Homo sapiens: one gene and its partners. The protein of the gene in region 2 purifies or fractionates together with the protein of the main gene of each other region. This does not show direct contact. Each region holds a gene or a part of one and is shown on either strand. Other genes may lie near its edges. The genes, in order: WIF1, GPN1, A2ML1, RPRD2, NBEAL2, KSR2 and RPRD1A.

Region 1 (3,500 bases), on a different chromosome or scaffold from region 2:
AACTGGGCAAAATAAACAAGTCTCTTGTAAAGAGTATGAATCGTTCAGCAATTTTAGGGCCAAGTTTGAATTCACTTACTAAGAGTAAAATCTGGCTGTGTTGCTGCAATGTTAAGAAGGAAGAACCTAATCTCTCTGGGATGTGATTTGTGAGCAGAGTATTGAATCGGGAGTCAGTAAACTTCTAGGTTAGGCAATGTAGAGCAGGTTGTTTAATTTTAGCCTTAGAAGCTCACCCACAAAACCAATTTAGGACATACTAAAATTCCATGTGGCAAGACCAGCTAATTGTTCACAAAAATTTGCACTCCCGTTATGTAATATGAGATGTCAGTGGGAGACCACTGTCCAGCCAGGGGCAACATTTCTTCTGCCTGAAACCAGGTAGGACCATGAGGCTAATTCCTACCTATGGAATAGGTGTGGAAGTTTTGTGGGTAAATTCTGGGCCAGGGCTTTTAAATTTTTTAATTAATTAATTTATTTTTAGCAGTGCTTACTTCAATCCTTCTCTGCCTATTGGCTGGATCTAGAGAGTTCCAAAGCTCTAGGCAGGACCACAGATAGATGGTGCCTGGGCTCCTGAGTCACTGCATGGAGAAGAGCTGCCCTGCCCACTGACCAGGCAAAATGCACTGGAGCATTCTGTGAATGAAAATAAACTTTTGCTATTATGCTACACTAAAATTGGGATTTCAGTTACTATAGCAGCCATCTTTACCCTAAGCCATACATTCTCAGAGCTGTTATGAAGAGTGAGGACATATAAAGTAACTTATTCTAATCAAACATTTTAAAAGTAAAAATAACTTTCTTCTTAAAAAGAAACTGTTACCTTTGTCACAGTTCACTCCATAGAATCCAGGTGGGCAGATGCAGAAACCAGGAGTCACACAAAGTCCACCATTCATACATCGTGGGGTACAAAGGGCTTATAGGGAGAGAGAACCCTGATTAAGGCCAAATGGTATTTTGGAGCAGGACCATTTTGAAATGTCAATAATACAACAGGTCTACATTTTCAAGCTTTGTGGTTGACTCTAAAATGATTACTCTTCAGAGATACAAGTTTGCTATATTAATATTATTTTTGTGGTATAAATTAGGCTGTTTTTCAATTTCTCAGCCAATTTCTTAGAGATGACTTTTGGATTGGTTCCATTTGAATACTTGAATAAATTTTCCCCAGAATCATTTTGACTAAGATGTGGTCTTCTTAAAACTGTTAAATATTTTCACTTTGCCCCATTTGCTTAATCTTCTAATTCCAACATAAATGCAAAGAAGAAAAATAAGAAAATATTATTCTTTCTTACTTATTTTAAAATTATTTTTTAACTGTCTCTCACAGGATATTCTTATTTCTTGAAGATGAAAAATATTTTGCTTACTGTAGTCAGATAAGCTCTTAGTATTTAAACATCTTATGATTAATATTCATTTCCTTGCTTATGTCTTTTTTCATTTATTTTTAAAAATTAATTTCCCTGAAATTGATGTACTTACTACACAAATTCATCCACTTTTTTGCCTTATCATAACTTCATAACTTAGATATACTCTTAGTTGTGAATCAAGCTACTTTCAACTGGAACAATTTCAGATCAGTGGTGATACTAGCTTTTTAAATCCAACTTAAGAGGAGGAAAAAAACCTCAAAATTTTCATAAGATTATGCCAAAGTACAGTGGCTATATTTCTGAAGCGGGATGAGTTGGGGGAGATGGCCAGGAATGGCCACAGAAAGTGATGGCATTGTGCCAAAATTTTCTGCCCCTGTGACCAGGAAAATAATTTCAGGTGTTAAAAATACACAATACACATGGGGCTCCTGCACGACATCCATGTTCATTAGGAAGGGAGCAAGGGAAATCGGCTCCATGTCTTACCTTTCTCACAGTGAGGTCCGTGGAACCCATCAGGACACTCGCAGATGCGTCTTTCATTACAAAAGCCTCCATTTCGGCACCCGCCTGGGCACTCAGCTTCAGCAGAGAGAAACAAAGCTTATATGGACACCCTTGAAATCATGTTGGGTGAATCACAGCCAGTGTGAGACAGTAGTGTTCATTTCTGTTCTAGCCCACCAATTAATCATAATTGATCAAATACCAGTACTTCCAACTCATTCCCTCGATATCACTTGGATTTCACTAAATCTGCTGCAGAGTAAGATTTTGCCTCCCTTATTTCCAACAGTAGGGGGCTCTTGGAAGAAGGTAAGGCAAATTTTATTCTGCCTTCATCTCCTCCTATGGATCTACTGTACCTTGTTAAATTCCCACTGCAATTGAATGAATGGTATTGCCTTTCCCCTTTCAGAGGGTAAGATGACTTATGGGTACATCTTTAGAGCACTGAAATGCTCCAGAGCTTAAATTCTGAGCTAGAAAAGCTTGTATAGGGATGTGAAAGGAGCCAGGCCTTTATAGTTAAATGGGCATCTGGGGTGTGGTGGGGAGGTATTGAGTGAGGCCTTGACCTGGTAGGGATCACTGGCATGAGGTGGCAGTCTGTCCTCCGTGGATATTCATTAGAGGTTATATTAGTGTTGCCTTTGGGACAAGTGGGAAGTGCTGGTAATTATGAGCCACCTTGCCTTGAGCAAACAGAGCAAGAAAGGGGGAAATTCATGACCACGGGTGAGATACACTGGGACTCCCAACAACTGTGTTGGAGGAGTGGAGAGGGAGGAAGAAAAGGTGTTTTGAAACGTTTCCTATTCCTAATATTAAAAGTGGGGTCAAGGTCAGAGGAAGTCTATCTTAGTACTGTTGCTAAATCCTGTGCTGATCATCTCCTCCTTCCGTTGCTGTAGTTATAGAGCCATCATCCAAAAAACCATGTGTGTGTGTGTGTGTGTGTGTGTGTGTGTGTGTGTATAGATATAAATATTTGGTCCAAATCACACCTAAGCCCTTACAACATGTCTTCTCTTGAATCACCATCGGTGCTTACCTTGTTGACATGTTTTAAAGAAGATAGCATTTTGAGGTGTTTGGAGAATGGTGTTGCCTTCAGAATTCATAACAATCACATCCACTTCAAATGCTGCCACCCCATCCTGTTTTCCAAGACATGGGAAACCAACTTGAACAACTAAAAGAAAAAAAGAGAAAGTGTGGAGAAATAGTTAATCTAGTTGATTCTAGTTTTACAGAAATCTTGGGAACCAAGAGTCAAAGGACAAAGCAAAAATGTTCACATGTTGTGGATTTCCTTGTATCTCCACTGGAGTAGGAACTGTATTTTGAGCATCTGGGCTCCACAGAAGTTGAGCATCATGTCAGGTGAAGAAAGAGTGAATGACTCCAATTTTTACCTCATTAATATGGAATTGGTGATATTCTGTTCACAGTCTGGACTTGTACTATCTTAAATATTTTCCCTGGAAATTAAAGATGGAAAGAAGAATCATAAAGTGGTTAATTATGTATACGTCAGTGTAGCATGGGAAGAACAGAAAGACAAACGAAAATAAATAAAAAGCAGTTGATTCG
Region 2 (3,500 bases):
GCAGGAGAGAAAATTTACCCTGAGTGAGCTGTAAAACTCATCTAACACCAGGCTCATTGAACGAGTCAGGTTACTGACGTATGTAGTCTCTTGATTCAAGGCATCTTGGAAAGCCTCAAAATCCTGCATCCATTCCACTGCAAAGCTGTGGTCAATGATGTCAGTCTGTACCAGAGAGAAGTCAATTATGAGCAACCAGAGCCAACAAACGCAAAATTTATTCTTTTAATTAAGTGTTGACAGCAAAGAACATATCATCCATATATTTTCTTTCTCTGCTTCTATTTCCCCTCCATTGCAACAAGCCACAAAGAACCACAATCATTGTGTAGTCAGTGTAATTAAATGAAGATGTGTATTCTCTTGGTTGACCCTCCACTATCCACTGCCAAGTACCAGGACCAGAATGGACACCAGCACATTCTAGGCTCTGAAGTCAAAAGGTCTCTTGCATCCTAGCCATCAACCAACAGAGAAGTTTAGAATTTTTTAATTGCCACTTCCAGTAGACTAGTTGTCCCTCTCGTAATTACACAATCTTGACTCTGAGGGATAATCTACATACTGTGGTTGAAGTGCTACTCTACCTAGCCTAAAATAATTTTAGACAAGAGTTGGTAATAATTGCTCATTCAATTTGATTGATTCATTTTCTCGAAGTGCCTATGAATTTGTTTCAGTAAAGCCTGAATCTGGTCTCCAGCATCTGAAATAATCTTTCTCACCCACCTAAACCTTCTAACCACAAGGTTCTGATGAAAAATGGTGAATCACAACAGGAAGAATACACTTACTTTATTCATGACCACAATGAAAGGCAGCTTGGTTTTGTATAAGATGCTGAAAACCAAACATTGAGAAGTTATTAGTAAAAGCACATAAGCTCTTGCTCATCCAGTGTCAGCATGTCGGGACTAAGTAAGAGAACAGAAATGAGTTCAGAATCTAAAAAGTAGTCATCCATTTTTACATAACATCATATAGTCTCTGCCAACAGGAAAACAACTACCACCCAGAAGCAACACACACACTCTCACTCTTGTTTGAAGTAATAATGCCTTAATATTGAACTTGTTTTTGTTTTGTTTTTTAACCAAATTGGTATTTTTCAGAGAAGGAAATGAACATTTACTGAATACCTATTACAGGTTGAGAATTTCCTATCTAAAATACTTGGGACCAGAAGTGTTTTTTATTTCAGATTTTGGAATATTTGTAAATACTTATTGGTTGAGCATCCCAAATCTGAAAATCCAAAATCCTCCAATAACCATTTCCTCTGAGTGTCATGTCAGTGTCTAGAATGTCTCACATTTTGGAGCATTTCAGATTTCAAATTTTTGGATAAGGGATGCTCAATCTGTATAGTCTAGGCACTGTGCTAATAAGCACTTTCATAAGTATTATCTCCTTTATTCTTTACAAATAACATGTAAATATATACAATTTTTATTTGTCAATTATACCTCAATAAGGCTGGGAAAAGAATATTAAAATTTTTTTCAATCTGTAAAGTAACATCTTAAAAATGTTTCTACCCCTACCTTTATTGAGGTATAGTTGACAAATAAAAATTATATATATTTAAGGTGTACAAAGGGATATTTTGATACACAGTTGACCCTTAAACAACATAGGTTTGAACTGCAAGGTTTACTCATATGCACCTTTTCTTCCACCTCTGCCACCCAGAGACAGCAAAACCCAACCCCTACTCTTAGACTACTCAAAGTGAAGACGATTAGGATGAAGAGTTTTATGACGATCTACTTCACTTAATGAACAGTTAATATATCTTCCCCTTATTTTCTCTAGCTTTATTATATGAATACAGCATATAATACATATAATATATATGTAATGTGTGTTAATCTACTGTTTATGTTACCAGCAAGGTTTCCAATCAACAGTAGGCCTTTAGTAATTAAGTTTGGGGGGAGTCAAAGTTTTATATTTTGTAGAGATGGGGTTTCACCATGGTGCCCCGGCTGGTCTCTGCAGGGGTTGGCGCCTCTAACCCCCAAATTGTTCAAGGATCAACTGTATGTTTCATCATGAAATGATTACCAGCTGGGGGTGTGACTCATGCCTGTAATCTGAGCACTTTGGGAGGCCACGCTGGGAGGACTGCCTGAGCCCACGAGTTCAAAACCAGCCTGGGCAGCATGGCGAGACCCCACCTCTAAAAATAAATTAATTAATTTTTTTAAAAAGAAATGATTAACACTATCAGGCAAATCAAATAATTTTCTTTTAAACAATTAATATGAAAATGGGCCAGGCACAGTGGCTCATGCCTGTATTCCCAGCACTTTGGGAGGCCAAGGCGGGCAGATCACTTGAGGTCAGGAGTTTGAGACCAGCCTGGCCAACAAGGTGAAACCCCGACTCTACTAAAAATACAAAATTAGCCAAGTGTGGTGACTACTCAGGAAGCTGAGGCAGGAGAATCACCTGAACCCAGTAGGCGGAAATTGCAGTACGGTGAGATTGTGCCACTGTACTCCAGCCTGGGTGACAGAGCAAGACTCCGTCTCGAAAAAATATAAATAAATAAATAAATAAATAATTAATATGAAAATGAAATAATGCTGTCAATCTTCAGATTTCTATTTGGATCACAATTTCTTGCATCCACCAAAAAGGGACATCCCTTGTCATATCAGAAAAGACAAATGTTGGTGATGGCATTTGTGTACCCTCAAAATTAAATTCTCTCAGCTTTAATAACTGTCAGCCTTGCTCCTCAGTCTTAATGCACTAATCTAGTGAGGCATGCCCTTCCTCTGCTAATGGTGCCACATTTGGGGCAAACCAGTGCATTTTATTTTTTTGAGACAGGGTCTCACTCTGTTGCCCAGCCTGGAGTACAGTGACATCATCACAGCTCACTCCAACCTTGGCCTCCCAGGCTCAAGCAATCCTTCCACCTCTGCCTCCCAGGTAGCGGGGATTACAGGCACACACCACCATCCCTGGCTAATTTTTTGTATATTTTGTAGAGATGGGGTTTCACCATGGTGCCCAGGCTGGTCTCAAACTCCTGGGCTCAGGCGATCCTCCCACCACAGCCTCCCCAAGTGCTGGGATTATAGGCATGAGCCACCATGCCTGGCCACCTGTGCATTTTACAATTATGGATAAATCTTCTTATTCATGGTATCTCCTCATGTTACAATTTCACTCTACCAGCATCATTTAGGCCAGAGGACTCTATTCTTCTCTCTCTCTCTCGTTGCCCCAGGCTCTTGTTGCCCCAAGCCGGAGTGCAGTGGCACAATCATGGCTCACTACAGCCTCAACCACCTGAGCTCAAGCAATCCTCCCACGTCAGCCTCCCAAGTAGCTGGGACTACAAGGGCGTGCCACCACGCTGGCTAATTTTAAAACATTTTTTGTAGAGACAGAGTCTTGCTATGTTCCCCAGCCTGGTTTCAAACTCCCAAGCTCAAACGATCCTCCCACCTTGGCCTCCCAAGTGTAGGGATGACAGACCCAGC
Region 3 (3,500 bases), on a different chromosome or scaffold from region 2:
GACTTCTTGTTGTGACATAAATTGGGATGGAGGGATTACTAGAAAGAAATTTAGAGGGAAGCAGAGAACATCCAGTCAGAGGCAAGGAGGAAGGACCAAAGAGGAACTAACTAGTCACAAAGGCCATCGAGGGAAGTGATAGCCAAGGAGGTTTGGCCGGGGAATGGATACATAAGCTTCAGGCTTCAAAAGCTCTCCCCAGAGAGAGAACACTTGGGAAACTGTCCTGCATCTGTGACCCACAACCCATTAGCATTCTCGGGCTAGAGGCTCAGTGCAAGAACAGGAGGCAAGAGGAAATCTGCAGAGTTCCAGGACTGTTAACATCTCAGAGAATCCACAGACCACAGAGGTGGCTTACCACCCATAGCAGTGCTGTATTCTGGAGATCTGTGACTGCAATCTACTGGCTTCTTGATTTTGGCATTGGACAGTATTTTCAGGCCCACGTCCTGATAGGCATCAGAGAAATAAGTATTAAGGTGGTCCCTTCCCCAACTACAAGGGCTACTGCCCAGGAATTCCACCATCAAAGAGTTGAAACAAAACATTCTTTTTGAATTAATGGTGAACCTGGGTGTTCTTACCTGAAACTCAGCCACTGAGGCTGGTTGGCTTCTGTTCCAGCTAGCATGAAAGGCTTTCAGTTAAACTTATTTCATCATTACATACATGTAATGGTTCTGCCAAATATTATTCGCTATGTCCTTACTATTTGACTTACGCTGTAAACATGCTGAGGGTAGGGACCATATCAGCGTACTCAATTCAACAAAAATACAATGAGCCTTATGAAGGGTCAGGCATTAGAGAGAATACAAAGATGAACAAGACCTAGTTCCTGACCTCAGGGACCTCCTGGTCAGACTTGGGTCACACAGCATCCCAAATCCTGCTCATAGAATAGGTGCAAATTATTTTTTATAATAATGATAAGAGACCTCTGGTCTACCTTCTCTAATTTTCCCTCCTGATTGATCTCATGGAAATCAGTGTTTGAGGACAACAAAAAGAGGAAGACTAGGTTGGACATCTTCTTCAAGCATAAGGGCCAACAGAGGCGACCTTACACGTCAGAAGCTTCTTTCAAGATTTTGTTCCCATCAGTGCCCATATGAGTCTCTCTGCTTTCTTAGATATGAACTTTCCTTTGCCCATTCCCACCACCATCTTTCCCATAAGAACAAAATGGGTAAGAAGACCTACCCGGAAAAAGCTGAAAAGGTCCGTGCCTTCAGAGAACGAGGGCCTCCAGATAATGGAACGCTGGCTCGAATGCCCTTGGGGCATTGGGTCAATGAGGGGCTGAGGAAAGTCCCATGGGCCAGACACTGGACACTGATCATACTCAGCCACTTGATAGGGGTAGTGACCATACCAGAATGGAAACATCCCATAGACCTGGGACAAGAGGGGGAGAGGAAATAAAGCATTGATATAGTGATATCAGTTGAGAAACTTCTCTCAGATTCTGGTGCTCAGTTCACTACTCCTGTATCATTTCTCTTTATTACTTCAGAATTATTTTTATATTCATTCTGTCATAATTACCTTTCTCACTGTCTAAAACTTTAACCTCTATCTCACCTATTTTTTCATAATCCTATCCCCTATTTCGTTCTCTTTCTTGTTTTTTTTTTGAGACGGAGTCTTGCTCTGTCGCCCAGATTGAAGTGCAGTGGGACGATCTCGGCTCACTGCAACCTCTGCCTCCCGGGTTCACGCAATTCTCCTGCCTCAGCCTCCTGAGTAGTTGGGATTACAGGCATGCGCCACCATGCCTGGCTAATTTTTGTATTTTTAGTAGAGACAGGGTTTCACCATGTTGGTCAGGCTGGTCTTGAACCCCAGACCTCAGGTGATCTGCCTGCCTTGGTCTCCTAAAGTTCTGGGATTACAGGCTCATTCTCTTTTCTTGTCTCTGCATTCATACTAACCATGCCTTTCTCTTATCCTTTCTTTTTTTGTTTTTGTTTTTTTTTTTTTGTTTTTGAGACAGAGTTTTGCTCTTGTTGCCCAGGCTGGAGGGCAATGATACAACCTCCGCCTCCCAGGTTCAAGTGATTCTCCTGCCTCAGCCTCCCCAGGATTACAGGCATGGGCCCATGCCCAGTTAATTTTTTTTTTTTTTTTCTGGATTTTTAGTAGAGACAGAGTTTCTCCATGTTGGTCAGGCTGGTCTCGAACTCCCGACCTCAGGTGATCTGCCAGCCTCGGCCTCACAAAGCACTGGGATTACAGGCGTGAGCCACCGTGCCCAGCCCTCTTACACTTTCTAACTTCATTTTCACACCAGCCTTTTTACCGCCTTATGGCAGTGCATTATTTCCCTAAGACTTTCTCTCCCCTGCCTGAAACCTACCTCTTAATTGTCTTCTCCATCAACTCCCTCCTCCCACTCTGTCAGCAGACAGTTACTCACAGAGCGGTTGCTCAGCTCTCTGTCTGGCCTAAGCAGTAAGACACTCTCATCCACCGCCCGGAGCGCACACAGGGATCCGGGAGCTGCCTGCAGCTGCAGCTCCACTTCTGCTCCTGGAAGCTGCTGGGAGGGGGAGAAGCCAAGGGAAACCTGGGGAAGGGAAAGGTATAACTTGGGGATCAGGTCAGCCTGGAAAGGAAGGGAAACAACATAATTTGGGTCATCAGCAAATATGCCCCAGCTATGACATCCAACCCATTCTTTCACTTTTGTACTTATCTTTCTTTGTAAAGTCTAGCTCTTCAGGACGTGTATGCCGTGATAGAGTTGGGAAACGTGAGCAGCACAGTAGAAGGATAGAGAAAGTTTAGAAGACAAAAAGTAGAGAGAACATGTGGAATAACTATATAGAACATGTGGCTTCCCAGTATGGCTTTTTTTTTTTTTTTTTTTAATAGAGACAGGGTCATGCCTGTAATCCCAGCACATTGGGAGGCCAAGGCAGGTGGATGACCTGAGGTCAGGAGTTCAAGACCAGCCTGGCTAACATGGTGAAACCCCGTCTCTACTAAAAATACAAAAAAAAAAAAAAAAAAAAAAGCCAGGCATGGTGGTGCATACTTGTAATCCCAGCTACTCGGGAGTCTGAGGCAAGAGAATCACTTGAACCCAGGAGGCAGAGGTTGCAGTGAGCCGAGATCGCACCATTGCACTCCAGCCTGGGCAACAAGAGGAAAGCTCTGTCTATAAAAAATAAAAAAAATAGACAGGGTCTCGCTCTGCAGCCTTGAACTCCTGGGCTCAAGCGATACACCTGCTTCAGCCTTCCGACTAGCTGGGACTACAGGTATGCATCACCACACTCAACTAATTTTTTTTTTTTTTTTTGAGACAGAGTCTCACTCTGTCACTCAGGCTGGAGTGTAATGGTGTGTTCTTTGCTCACTGCAACCTCCGTCTCCTGGGTTCATGCAATTCTCCTGCCTCAGCCTCCCAAGTAGCTGGGATTGCAGGCATCCACCACCATGCTTGGCTAATTTTTGTATTTTTAGTAGAGACACGGTTTCACCAGGCTGGT
Region 4 (3,500 bases), on a different chromosome or scaffold from region 2:
GTCAAGATCATGCCACTGCACTCCAGCCTGGGTGACAGAACAAGAATATGTCTCAAAAAAAAAAAAAAAAAAAAGACAAAATGGATGTCATTAACACAATATTTTCCATTTTGTCCTCCTAGTTCTTCAAAGCATATGCTAATTTACTACAGAGAGGCTAGTCCAATTCGTCTCTCACAAACTGGGAATGTAATTTCCAGCACTGTAGACAGTGTCTGGAATGTAAATTCCAGACAGAATTATCTCTACTTGTAGATTGTAGAACTTTCATCTACAGGTACAGAACTACTTATAGATGAAAAACTGAGGTTCACAGTTTAAGTACTTTGCAAAGTGTCATCCAGTATTAAGTGACCGGAGTTAACATGTTAACACAGGCCTCTTTTATATTTTTCCATATTGATTCCCATTTTACCATTAAAAATGGGAAAGAAGGTCTGGGCCTGGTGGTTCACGCCTGTAATCCTACCACTTTGGGAGACCAAGGCAGGCAGATAGCTTGAGCCCAAGAGTTCAGCCTGGGCAACATGGCAATACCTCGTCTCTACAAAAAACATAAAAATTTGGCCGGGCGTGGTGGCTCACGCCTGTAATCCCAGCACTTTGGGAGGCTGAGGTGGGCGAATCACTTGAAGTCAGGAGTTTGAGACCAGTCTGGCCAACATGGTGAAACCCCATCTCTACTAAAAAATACAAAAATTAGTTGGGCGTGGTGGCATGTGCCTGTAATCCCAGCTACTCAGGAAGCGGAGGCATGAAAATCACTTGAGCCCGGGAGATGGAGGTTGCAGTGAGCCGAGATTCCGCCACTGTACTCCAGCCTAGGCGACAGAGTGAGACTCTGCATCAAAAAAAAACAAAAACAAAAACATAAAAATTAGCCAGGTGTAGGCCGGGCACAGTGGCTCACGCCTGTAATCCCAGCACTTTGGGAGGCTGAGGCGGGCGGATCATGAGGTCAGGAGATCCAGACCACGGTGAAACCCCGTCTCTACTAAAAATACAAAAAAAAAAAAAAAAAAATTAGCTGGGCGCGGTGACGGGCGCCTGTAGTCCCAGCTGCTCGGGAGGCTGAGGCAGGAGAATGGCGTGAACCCGGGAGGCGGAGCTTGCAGTGAGCCGAGATCGCGCCACTGCACTCCAGCCTGGGCGACAGAGCAAGACTCCGTCTCAAAAAAAAAAAAAAAAAAAAAAAAAAAAAAAAATTAGCCAGGTGTGGTGGCATGGTTCCAGCTACTCAGGAGGCTGAGGTGGCAGGATTGCTTGAGCCCAGGAGGCGGAGGTTGCAGTGAGCGGAGATCATGCCCTGCACTCCAGCCTGGGCAACAGAGCCAGACTCTGTCCCTCCCCCACCTCCCCACAGAAAAGAGAGAAAGAAGAACGAAGTACAGAAATGATAATCTGGGCAAATTGCACATCAAGTCCATATGCCTCCAACTGCTGCACCTGTAATTTCTTTCACTAAATTATAAATGCTTCCTTCTGATAAACAGAAATTAAAGCAATTCTGTTCCTTAAGTTCTTGATTAGCTATTTCACATTATGTTGGCAAACATTTACTGATTGCTAACTGTACGCCAGCACTATCCTAGTTGTTTGGGGACAGGGCAACAAATAAGACAAACTTGTCATCTGGTGGAGGGAAGCCAGACAATAAACGTGTAACAAACAAGGTAATATCATATACTGAAAATAAGATGATGTGACAGCAATTGAAGGCACTACTTGAAATAAAGCGAAGCCGGGTGCAGTGGCTCACGCCTGTAATTCCAACACTTTGGGAGGCTGAGGTGGGTAGATCGCCTGAGATCAGGAGTTCAAAACCAGCCTGGCCAACATGGTGAAACCCTGTCTCTACAAAAAATACAAAAATTAGCCAGGTACCGGGTGCGGCGGCTCACACCTGTAATCCCAGCACTTTGGGAGGCTGAGAGGCAGGTGGATCACCTGAGGTCCAGAGTTCAAGACCAGCCTGGCCAACATGGTGAAACCCTGCGTCTACTAAAAATACAAAAATTAGCCAGGCATGGTGGCGCATGCCTGTAATTCCAGCTACTTGGGAGGCTGAGGCAGGAGAATCACTTGAACCTGGGAGGCGGAGGTTGCAGTGAGCTGAGATCGTGCCATTATACTCCAGCATGGGTGAAAAGAGTGAAACTCTGTCTCAAAAAAAAAAAAAAAAAAAAATTAGCTGGGCTTAGTGGTGCACGCCTGTAATCCCAGCTACTCAGGAGGCTGAGGCAAGAGAATCACTTTGACCTGGGAGGAAGAGGTTGCAGTGAGCTGAGATCACGCCACCGCACTCCAGACTGGACGACAAAGCGAAATTCCATCTCAAAAAAATTAAATTAAATTAAATTAATTTAAAATAAATAAAAAACAGATACATGTAATTTAAAAAAATCTATTAAGACTCCGTATTAAAAAAAAAAAAAAAAAAACAAGAAATAAGGTGATCAAAGTAGGTCTTTCTGAGGAGGTAATAGTTGAGATTTGATCTAAACAATGAGAAGGAGGCAGGATGTGAAGAAGCCCGAGGTAGGCAGAGCAGATGGTACAGGACTTACAGATCAATGTAAAAGAAATTCAGACCTTCAACTTGTTGCAATGGGATATCACTGCAGGGTTTTAAAGCAGAGGAATGACATTTGTTTATGCTACAGAAAGATCACCTTAGAAAATGATGGTCTGAGGTCAGGAGTTCGAGACCACCCTGGCCAACATGGTAAAACCCTGTCTCTACTAAAAATACAAAAATTAGCTGGACGTGGTGGTGCGTGCCTGTAATCCCAGCTACTTGGGAGGCTGAGGCAGGAGAATTGCTTGAACCCTGGAGGTGGAGGTTGCAGTGAGCTGAGATCGCGCCACTGCACTCCAGTCTGGACGACAGAGCGAGACTCCATCTCAAAAAAAAAAAAGTAAAGAAGGATAAAATAAAAATATCTCTGGAACATATCCTTAGATAGCCTATTTCTCTAAATTATTTCCTTTTATATGAACAAAAGTCTCATTACACACTGAAATAAAGGATAAAATTAAAATATCTCTGGAATCTAATAGTTACTTAAATTTATACTGAGGTCTAAATATAAATATAAATTACTAAATAACGGATGTCAGAAGAAAAAAGAGAAGCAAAGTGGCATCAGGAAAATGGACAGAAAGGCTGGGAATGCCAAAGATACCTGCTTCACAATTTTTCCTAAAGCTGACTTAGAAACCAAACTCAGAGTCCAAAGATACCTGCTTCACAATTTTTCCTAAAGCTGACTTAGAAACCAAACTCAGAGTAAACTAAGTATAACTGTAAAGAAATAAGAACTTAAATGAAAACAAGGCCCATGCATAAACTGTTTTCATTGCGCCCCACACCATTCTGCTGAATATTTCTCTCAAAACGCTTTATTTACAATGAGACCAGTGAAGTTCATTAAATGTAAATACAAAACGACTAAAATTACCCTTAATCATTTTAGAAAGTTAAATTCCATTCCACTAGA
Region 5 (3,268 bases), on a different chromosome or scaffold from region 2:
CCCTCCAAGAAACAGGCAGAGACTTTAGGAGGGCATCTCAGAAAGTGGGTGAGAAGCTGGGACAGACATGGAAGATGCTTCCAGAGTATCACACTTAGTTTCAACTTGGTCCTCTCACCCTGTTATTCCTTGTCCCCCTAGCCCAAAGGCAGGAAGAGAGGGAAACCTAAAAAAAAAGTCAGGCCTGGGGGCAACATTCAGGAATGTTCCTGTCTAGGAAGGCGATGGAAGGGGTCCAAGGACAGATCTCCCTCCTGATCTCCCTAAGGCTTTCAGAGCTTGTTGAGTCGACACTTTATCCTGGCCCTGATGAAGAAGGCACCCCTCCTGCCCCCATACTCTTCCCATGTTTAGCTCATTTTCTAAGGTGCCTTGAAATCAGTGACCTTGATTAGGATTCCCATCTGCCCCACGTGGTTGGTAAGGACAGTGGGGTTAAACCCATTTCACAGAATATAAAGTTGAGGTCTTGTCTTCCTTTCACCTCTGCGAAGAATGCCTTGAGTTCGTCCAGGTGCTGGAAGATGCTAGGTGAGTTAGTGTCCAGGCGTGCAAGGCGATGGGCTGCTTCCTCAGCTGAGAGCCGAGTTGGATGTGGCTCCTGTGGGTAAGTGGCTGGTCAGCACCATGGCATGGGCATCCCTGGCCACTATCCTCTAAGCTGGCCTTACCTTCAGCAGCTGACAGGGAGTCTGCCCAAAGTTGCTGATAATGCCCTCCAGAGCCTTCCGTTCCCGCTCATCTGTCACATGGTCCAGGTCTACAGCCCCTGGGAAGGCAGGCAGAGCAGTCAGGGCTCCCTGCGTGCCCTCTGCATCCACCCGACCTGATCTTGTCCTGGCCCTGACTGGAGTCCAGCGCACTGCCCACCCTCATAGGTGCAGTAATAGAAGACATTGAGGGCCTCCTCGGCGGCTGGCCCCCGCTGCTTGTAGCCAAAGATGAGGTCGATCCACTCGTGTAGGTGTGCAGACACATACTCCGACTCCTGAGAGTAGGGAGGCAGCAATCAGTGCAGGGACAGCTGACCCCCCATGATCTTCAGAACCCCGGCTGCCTGCCGTTTGCCTGTGGTTCCTTCCTCACCAGAGCCTGGCGGTGCTGCTGGATGAAGTCCTCAGGAGAGCTGGCCCACGGGGGTAGCACCACATCGCCTACCTTCTCGTTGGTCAGCTGGAGACAGCCCAGGTCAAAACCTGGCACAGAGGACTGGGTCAGCTGTCTCCCTGTCCATCCCGACTGCCCCCTGGCCACTCCACCATCTGCTCTCCATCCCTACACCTGCCCGCTCCAGTGTGAGCACCTCACACCTACCGTTCTGGTTCTCCAGGAAGTCAGGAAAGTAGAAGAATTCCGGGATGAGCTCCTTCACATCGGCAGGGCTCTCCAGGCGTGCCTGCCAGGCTGCCGCCACCGAGTGGAACTGCCGGTCGGAGCAGTCAAAGCTGGGGGAGGGGCACGGGGCCAAGGTGAGGTGGGGAGAATGGAGACAGGGAGGGAGATGCTGTGGCTGGAGGGAAGAAGGGAGCCAGGGGTGGGCCCAGGATGTGGGGAGGACCAGCCTCCTCCCCTTATCTGCCCCCTAGTCTGCCCACCAGCCCCTGGGCCGCACCGGCCACTTTGCAGCTGGACGTGCAGGGAGGTGAAGGGCTCCACGCGGATGAGGTAGTGCATCACGCCTGCTGCATTGGAGTAGTGGGTGCCATAGTGGAACTTGTCAATGGTCCCTGCTGGGTCCTCAAAGCTTTCATACCTGGGGCCACAGTTGGACGTGTCAGCAGAAGCCCTCCCCTCGCCTTTCCCTACCCGCTGAGCCCAGCCCTGCCCACATGCTCACTTCTCCCTCACGAGCTGGGCATGCTTGGGGTTCACCACACCGATGGGCTTAGACAGGTCCCGGAAGACGGCTGGGTTGCTGAGGTCCAGGGTTGGGGACACGTAGTCCTGCAGGACCCAGGGGAACTGGCCACCCACCCGAGCAGGGGCTGCATGAGGGCCCTGATGGCCTACCAGCCCACCCTGCCCTGCCCACACCCTCAAGAAGGCGGGCACAGAGCCTGCCCACAGGTTGGGGGAGCACCACTTAGAGGGGTCACAGGGGAGAAGGACAGAGTGTCCTGGAACAGGATTCCTTTTGAGGAATAGAGGCTAGGCAGGGAGGGGAAGGGAGTGAGGCTGGGGACCTCTGGGGGTTGGCAGGGAACAGAGGCCAGGTCTTCATTGGCACATCTACCCTTGACCAAGCTCAGAGCTTGGCCCACTGGCAGGTACCTACACTTGGGGGAACCAAGGGCTGACAGGTCAGAGGGGCAGGGGTGGAGGGGTGCAGAGTGGGACCCTCACCACAGGGTACTGAGACAGGTCATTGTAGGTCCGCCCCGCAATGGTGTTGAGTTGCATCAAGTACTCGAAGTTGGATATCTCACGCTGTACCCATTTCTGGGGACAGGGGCAGACAAGATGTGAGCCAGGTGGGCTGTCCAGCACTGCCCCGTGATTCAGGGTCCCGACTTCACATCCCTCACACCCAGGGCTCTCACCTGGGTAAGGCCTGAGGCACGCAGCATCTCCTGGGGGGAGCGGCTGCTTAGGTAGCCTTGAGAGGGGGGCCGTAGGCGCAGGAGCCACGAGTACACCTGGTTCCGTACCTGGGTATGGGGTGGGATGGGGCCAGGCTGGGGTCTGGGAGTCTGGCTAGGAGATGAGACTGGGGTCGTGCCCACCTTGCATGGGAAGTTGAGGAAGTAGTTGGCCTGATCGATAAAGAAGAGCTCAAGTGCTGAACGGCGCAGGTTGAAACGCCGCAGGTGGACCTCACGCAGCTGGGCCAGTGGGCGCCGGAAATCATAGCCGATGCCTATGGGGAGGAACAGCAGGTACGGGAGTCACTCACCCCAGCCCCACCCAGAGCTCAGCCATTCCCTGCCATCCTCCTAAACCACACCACCAGGACGCACCCTCCTCGGTTTCCACGCGCTCAGTGCTGCCATCGTAGAAGTATACATTCTGTGTGGTGACCTCCAGCAGCCCTGGGACCACGGCCACTACCGTCACCAGCTGGCACTCGGCCGACAGCACCAGCTTCTCACGCTGCTCATCCAGTTCTGCTGCCTCCATCCTAAAGACCAGCAACCCACCTCACGCTGTAGGCTCTGGGACCCCCTTCTTCACAAGCCCAAAGGGCATCCAAGTGCCATTGAGTCATGGGGTATATACTCTCATGACTCCCAGAGATGGGGAGGGGCTGCCTAGGGTCCAGAACCTACTG
Region 6 (3,500 bases), on a different chromosome or scaffold from region 2:
GGGAATGCTCTTGAGCAATTATTCCAATTTGTATTTCCCAGATTTGCAGGGTTAGGGAGGGCCCCTGCAGAGGGGCTGGTAACTTAGGGTCCAGCCAAGTCCAGCCAACGCTAACATTTGGGTCCACGGAATTTTCTAATTTTGTATATCAAAACCATATGAGGGTGCTTGTTAAAATGCAGATTCTTAGCCTCTAACCCTAGAGATTCTAGTTTAGCTGGGATTAGCAAGAGGGTCAAGGAATCTGCGTTTAATAAACAGTCCAGGTATTTCTGATACATGTTTTCAAATGGACACTTTGAGATGCTAAACCATTAGGAGAAAGATGTGATATTTCAGCTCTTTAATGGTGAAAACTCACTGCTTGCTAACACTAATGCAAGTAATAAATTGAATAGATGATCCCTGAACAGTGCTGTGATAATGAACAGCACTTAATAGCATGTATACACTTCTGTAGAAACAAAAATATGCAAGGTGGACTTGGCCTTCAGGAAGCATACTTCATGATATAATAATGTGTATGTGAAATAATGATAAAGTCTAAGTGGTAAATAATATGGGGGACAATGTGTGAGCCCATTAGGCATGTGTTCAGCTGCATGAAATGGAAAACCCAATCCTAGCAGTAAGGCAAATAATGGTTTCTCTTCATGTAACAAGAATTCTGGAGACATATAGCTGCTTCAGTTGGCTCAGTAGGTTAGTAATACCAGGGCTGATGTCTTTGGGAATTCTCATGGCTTTTCTCTTATGGTTGCAAGATGGTTCCTGCAGCTTCAGCGATTACATCTGAGTTCAAGGTAGGAAAGAGGAGGACCTGGTGAGTGTGAAGGAATAAAGGGTTCCCCAGGACATCTCTTCCTCCTCACCTTGCAGATGATTTGATTATATCTTCTTGGCCAGAACTGAGTCCTAGCTGCAAGGGAGCCCGGGAAGTGGGGAAGTGGGACCACCACCAGGATCGGCTTAGATGGATCATGATCCATTGCCTGAAATGACATGTTGCCACTCCATGCAAAATCAGGGCTCTGCTAGTGTGGAAGGAGGCATAGGTAGATATTAAGTAAGTGGACAGCCAGCGATGGCAGCCATGGCACATAGTCAGAAGATATTTTGGTGGAAAAGAAAGTTCATGAACGTTGAGTCAGACTGATATAGTTGTAAATTCTAGCTTGTCTTTTTACTTTATCTTGGGCTAGTGATTTAAGTTTTCTGATTTATAGTTTTAAGTTTTTGGCAAAACAGCAATAATTAAATAATATTCCCTACTTCAGAGGATGGTTATAAGGATTGAAAGAGATAACGTTTTCAAGGGTCTAGCACTATCTGGAACAGAGTGGCTGCAGGTGCTAAATGAATGACAGCTGTGATGATGATAATGATTGGCATTACATGGTGTTGACTAGATGGCATGGAAGGGAGCAGTTCAGATTGGACAGAGAGAAGGAGGAGCTTGAGTAGCATTTCCAAAGTATGTTCTGTAGAACCCTAAATCTGTGGGATGTTAGCGTTTTTAATTCTTTCAACAAATGCTGACATCCAGGCACTGTACTTAATGCTGGTAGTCAATAAGTGTTCTGTGGACAAAACAAATTCTGTGGTTAATAAGTTTGGGAAGGGTTGAGTTAAGCAAAGGGAAACAGGCATCTTTACTGCAGGACTTTTCTCAGAGCCTTTAATATGCTACCTATGTGTATTAGGCCTCCAAGAGAGGATAGAACGGAGTCTCGCTCTTGTCACCCAGGCTGGAGTGCAGTGGCGCAATCTCAGCTCACTCTGCCTCCTGGGTTCCAGTGATTCTCTTGCCTCAGCCTCCCAAATAGCTGGGATTACAGATGCCCGCCACCATGCCCTGGTAATTTTTGTGTTTTTAGTAGAGACGAGCTTTTGCCATGATGGCCAGTCTGGTCTTGAACTCCTGACCTCAGATGATCTGCCCGCCTCGGCCTCCCAAAGTGCAGGCGTGAGCCACTGCACCCGGCCCAAGGATTTCTCCTGGGATTTTTGTTCCATAGGATACACCTGGGAAAACATTTGGCAAAGCAGGGAAACCTTCTTGGTTGGGGAGATGGGGATTTGGAGTGAAGGATGAGGAGGGTTTAGATTGCAGCAAAAGGGGAGAGCATGCTGGACAAGAACAACAAACCAGATGAAGGTATTTGAATGCCTTCATGGGGCAGCCTAGAGACCATTTTGCCCAGAATGGAGGGTACCTGGTAGCCTGTCATAGGAAATGAATTTAGGCCACTAACTTCTGGGATCCAACTAAAGATTAGAGAGTCAGACCAACAACGTTTCATCCCTTTGTGGAAGGAGATAGAAGTCTTCAAAGGTTTTGGAATGCATACAATAGAAAAGTATAAGCTTTTTTGTTTTGTTTTTTTTGAGGCAGGGTCTCACTCTGTAACTCAGGCTGGAGTGCAGTGGCACGATCATGGCTTACTGCAGCCTTGACCTCCAGGGCTCAAGAGATCCTCCTGCCTCAGCCTCTTGAGTAGCTGGGACTACAGGTATGCACCACCACGCTTGGCTAATTTTTTGTATTTTTTAAATAGAGACAAGGTATTGCTATGTTGCTCCAGCTGATCTTGAACTCCTGGGCTCAAGTGATTCGCCTGCCTTGGATGGCAGCCTACGGCAGGGGCTGGCAAACTTTTTCTGGAAAGGGACAGATAGTAAAGAGTTTAGGCTTTGTGGACCCTGCAATTTTTATCAAAGCTACTCGACTCTGTGCTGTAGCATGTAGCAGCCATGGGCAGTACATACATGAATGGGTGGGGCAGTTTTCTTTTTATTTTGAGACAGGGTCTCGCTCCGTTGCTCAGGCTGGAGTGCAGTGGCGTGATCTCGGCTCATTGCAACCTCCGCTTCCCAGTTTCAAGTGATTCTCCTGTCTCGGCCTCCTGAGTAGCTGGGATTACAAGCCTGCACCATCACGCCTGGCTAATTTTTGTATTTTTAGTAGAGACAGGGTTTCAGACCAGCCTATTGGCCAGGCTGGTCTCAAACTCCCGACCTCCAGTGATCCGCCCACCTCAGCCTCCCAAAGTGCTGGGATTATAGGCGTGAGCCATCAAGCCGGGCCTGGTGGGGCAGTTTTCTAATAAAACTTTATTTGTGGACCCTGAAACTTGAAATTGATATACTTTTTGCATGTCATGAATATTTTTCTTTTGATTTTTTTTTTGATGTTTATAGTTGTACAAACTGTAGTTTCTGGGCCTTACAAAAACAGGTGATGGTGGCCAGGCACAGTGGCTCACGCCTGTAATCCCAGCACTTTGGGAGGCTGAGGTGAGTGGATCACTTGAGGTCAGGAGTTTGAGACCAGCCTGGCCAACATGGCGAAACCCCGTCTCTACTAAAAATACAAAAATTAGTGGGGCATGGCAGCGGGTACCTGTAATCCCAACTACTCGGGAGGCTAAGGCAGGAGAATCACTTGAACCTGGGAGGTGGAGGTTGCAGTGAACCAAGATGGCACCATTGCACTCCAG
Region 7 (2,618 bases), on a different chromosome or scaffold from region 2:
AAATAAATGTTTATCCTAAGTCATTATTGAGTACAAATCCACAGCTTAACAATGTGTTTTTAACAGCAGGAGAGCATGCAACTGCTCTAACACACAGGGTCAGAAATAAAAGGTAAAAGTACATTTGTTTTGTAACTGTAAATATACAAATATAAAATTTACCATATCTACCCTGTAGTGTGGCACTGCTTAACTGCCAAATATACAGTCATTCAAAAACCTTAAGGAAACATTGAAAATGTCTCAGGCTACTTTACTGAACATTAACGAATATTGTGTTCTTGAGCTATTAGAGCTAAAAGTATTATTTTTAAAGTTATATGAGCAAGGGAATAATAAAAGTATCATTTCACGTGTCTTTTAATCCCATAGACGGCTTTTTGTTAAAGGGATTAATTATGTTAAAAGGAAACTGATTTGACAAATAGAAACCAGTTCCAGAACCAAAGTTGTCCTCTTGGTAGAATGTCAAAATGTATATTATTTCCAAAGTATTTTCATTATTAATCTACTCAAATAATTACAAACAGTTTAATCAAGGGAGTCACTATTTAACACTTTTAAAATCTACACTGGCAGTTGGAATGGAACTTTTACAATGCTATTAAGGAACAGTTCTCTAGACTTTCATCTGCCCCTCAAAGTGACATCCCTGTTTTATGTTAAATTACCGACCTCTAAGGAATCAAAGGCATGTAGAGACACAGAATTGATATTTTGTTTGGGGAGAAGGGTAAAGATTATGTTGGAACATTTAGTCCCTTCTACAATCAAGTCCTAACTATACCATAATAAAGTCTCAATCAACTCCTAATTAGTTCTTCCCCTTCAGGAATTACATAGTATACAGTGATTAAATGCTGAAGAAAATAAAGAAAAACAATTGAAAATACCTGAAGAAATACAAACAAGAGATTTCTCACAAGGCCTTGGATCAAAAAAAAAATTTACAAAAAGATCTTTTGAAAATAATCACTATTTGTGAGCTTATTAATACACACAAATCATCACTTTGTTCAAATTAAGTCATGTTAATTTACCAATAAAATAGTAAACAAACCAACATTTTAAACAATTTTATAAATTACTCGTTGTTCCTTTTGTTAGTGTTTCTTTCTCAACAATATACAAAAATAACACTACAGGACTATCCACCTAACCTGTCTCCATCTCTTGCAAAGTCCTGGGACCTGGAAAGAGGCTGGTCCATCAATCTTCACTGTAGATGTCTCCCGCAAAGGGCAGGTGCATGTGGCTGCCAGTGACATTGGGCAATCGAGATAAGTCTGGCAGGCTCTGGATCCGGGACCTGAGTTCTTTGCGCACCAGGGAAACTCTGGCTAGCTTGCGCTTGTACTCCTGTAACATCAAACCACTTTCATTAGCATTCAGGGATTGAAAAAACTTCCTAGCTAATAATGACCTACATAAACCCAGGTACTATATATACTCAGTTAATGCCATATTTAAAAAGGTTATTCCAGTGTGAGTTTTCACATCAAAAGATGAGCTTTGGAAATATATAACTAGTAAACTATTATTATTAAGAAAAACCACAATCTTTAGCTGTTGCTTCACACCAGTAGAAAGAAGACTAACATTAATGTGCTTAACCTCGACATATAAGATGTTCAGGTATTCTTGAGTTTGGGCAAGAAAAATTACATATTTATTTTCATAAACCTTAACTAAAATTTGGCAAGAACATCTATGAAAACTCAGTAGGAATGGCCAGAGTCTGTGGTGTCTGAAGCAGGACTGCTCCCTTCCTGTGCCCTCCCATCTAAGCAAGGAGGGTCCACTCCAGACTGCTGCAGCCAAGAATACAGGATCACTCTCCCTGCAACTCCCAGTGGGAGGGTTTTATTCCCAGAAAGAGCGCCTCTCATCCTACCCCAACTACCTGGTGCTGAAGCTAAGTCCTGAGATAGAGCAGGGAAGAGCCTGGGGACTCCCTCCTGTCCAGCCCCCACTCCTGGAAAAGAAGTTCCTTCTTATGCGTGGAGGACTGAGAATACTTGGGCCCTGATAAGCCTCACCCCCAACTCATGAGGAAGGTGGCTCCACAGCAGAAGAGGCAAGCCAAGACAACCTCAGGCTGCTGCACCCCTCCCTTTCTCCAAAAGCTCAGCACCCACAACAGGGTATCACTCAGAGAAAAGCTTCCCACTATACCCATCTCAGTTCCAGGGTCCTGACTCAAAGATTTGGTCTAAGGAAGTAGCAGGCAGTAAAATAGATATGTCCATGGCAATTCACTATTACCACAGTGCATGGCACAAGGCAGGGAGATTCACGCTCTTTCCAAATGTGGTCACAGGTAAGTCCTGAGAGGACCATCCTAGAGAGTGCATAGATGAGGAAACATCTAAGGAAGAAACCCAGCTAGGAGTTTACTGCAACTCTCCAGGAAAGAAAGGACTAGGGCCTGAACCGAACCAAACCAACAGTAGTAAGGATAGAGCAATGTCCTTTAAAAACTACATTATATGTAAATAATACCTTAATGTCAAAGACTAAATGTTTAGAAAGAAAAATCAGCAGGAATTGGTTGTGGTTCTGCTGTGAGGAATAATGAGGGTTCAGGCTTCATAAGCAGGTGGATATCGGAGCTGTTA

Evidence for each region.
Region 1: the proteins of GPN1 (region 2) and WIF1 purify together in Homo sapiens (co-immunoprecipitation; one large-scale study listed by IntAct). This does not show direct contact.
Region 3: the proteins of GPN1 (region 2) and A2ML1 purify together in Homo sapiens (affinity purification with mass spectrometry; one large-scale study listed by BioGRID and IntAct). This does not show direct contact.
Region 4: the proteins of GPN1 (region 2) and RPRD2 purify together in Homo sapiens (affinity purification with mass spectrometry, with the first as the bait; one large-scale study listed by BioGRID). This does not show direct contact.
Region 5: the proteins of GPN1 (region 2) and NBEAL2 purify together in Homo sapiens (tandem affinity purification; one large-scale study listed by IntAct). This does not show direct contact.
Region 6: the proteins of GPN1 (region 2) and KSR2 purify together in Homo sapiens (co-immunoprecipitation; one large-scale study listed by IntAct). This does not show direct contact.
Region 7: the proteins of GPN1 (region 2) and RPRD1A purify together in Homo sapiens (affinity purification with mass spectrometry; 2 studies listed by BioGRID and IntAct, with this or other methods). This does not show direct contact.

What each region holds. Positions count from the first base shown.
Region 1 is NC_000012.12:65,065,806-65,069,305, forward strand, and holds part of WIF1 (wnt inhibitory factor 1 precursor), read right to left. Parts: intron 3,100-3,500; coding exon 2,959-3,099; intron 1,986-2,958; coding exon 1,890-1,985; intron 932-1,889; coding exon 836-931; intron 1-835. UniProt on the Homo sapiens protein: Binds to WNT proteins and inhibits their activities. May be involved in mesoderm segmentation.
Region 2 is NC_000002.12:27,635,550-27,639,049, reverse strand, and holds part of GPN1 (GPN-loop GTPase 1), read right to left. Parts: intron 841-3,500; coding exon 795-840; intron 166-794; coding exon 19-165; intron 1-18. UniProt on the Homo sapiens protein: Small GTPase required for proper nuclear import of RNA polymerase II (RNAPII). May act at an RNAP assembly step prior to nuclear import.
Region 3 is NC_000012.12:8,846,621-8,850,120, reverse strand, and holds part of A2ML1 (alpha-2-macroglobulin-like protein 1 isoform 1 precursor), read right to left. Parts: intron 2,612-3,500; coding exon of another isoform or gene 2,573-2,611; coding exon 2,423-2,572; intron 1,402-2,422; coding exon 1,207-1,401; intron 453-1,206; coding exon 362-452; intron 1-361. UniProt on the Homo sapiens protein: Is able to inhibit all four classes of proteinases by a unique 'trapping' mechanism. This protein has a peptide stretch, called the 'bait region' which contains specific cleavage sites for different proteinases.
Region 4 is NC_000001.11:150,367,147-150,370,646, reverse strand, and holds part of RPRD2 (regulation of nuclear pre-mRNA domain-containing protein 2), read right to left. Parts: intron 1-3,500.
Region 5 is NC_000003.12:47,003,666-47,006,933, reverse strand, and holds part of NBEAL2 (neurobeachin-like protein 2), read right to left. Parts: intron 3,119-3,268; coding exon 2,958-3,118; intron 2,858-2,957; coding exon 2,541-2,857; intron 2,440-2,540; coding exon 2,344-2,439; intron 1,963-2,343; coding exon 1,838-1,962; intron 1,754-1,837; coding exon 1,613-1,753; intron 1,446-1,612; coding exon 1,315-1,445; intron 1,197-1,314; coding exon 1,087-1,196; intron 989-1,086; coding exon 871-988; intron 770-870; coding exon 672-769; intron 602-671; coding exon 485-601; intron 1-484. UniProt on the Homo sapiens protein: Probably involved in thrombopoiesis. Plays a role in the development or secretion of alpha-granules, that contain several growth factors important for platelet biogenesis.
Region 6 is NC_000012.12:117,962,491-117,965,990, reverse strand, and holds part of KSR2 (kinase suppressor of Ras 2), read left to right. Parts: intron 1-3,500. UniProt on the Homo sapiens protein: Location-regulated scaffold connecting MEK to RAF. Has very low protein kinase activity and can phosphorylate MAP2K1 at several Ser and Thr residues with very low efficiency (in vitro).
Region 7 is NC_000018.10:35,991,942-35,994,559, forward strand, and holds part of RPRD1A (regulation of nuclear pre-mRNA domain-containing protein 1A), read right to left. Parts: intron 1,360-2,618; coding exon 1,210-1,359; 3' UTR 1-1,209. UniProt on the Homo sapiens protein: Interacts with phosphorylated C-terminal heptapeptide repeat domain (CTD) of the largest RNA polymerase II subunit POLR2A, and participates in dephosphorylation of the CTD by RPAP2.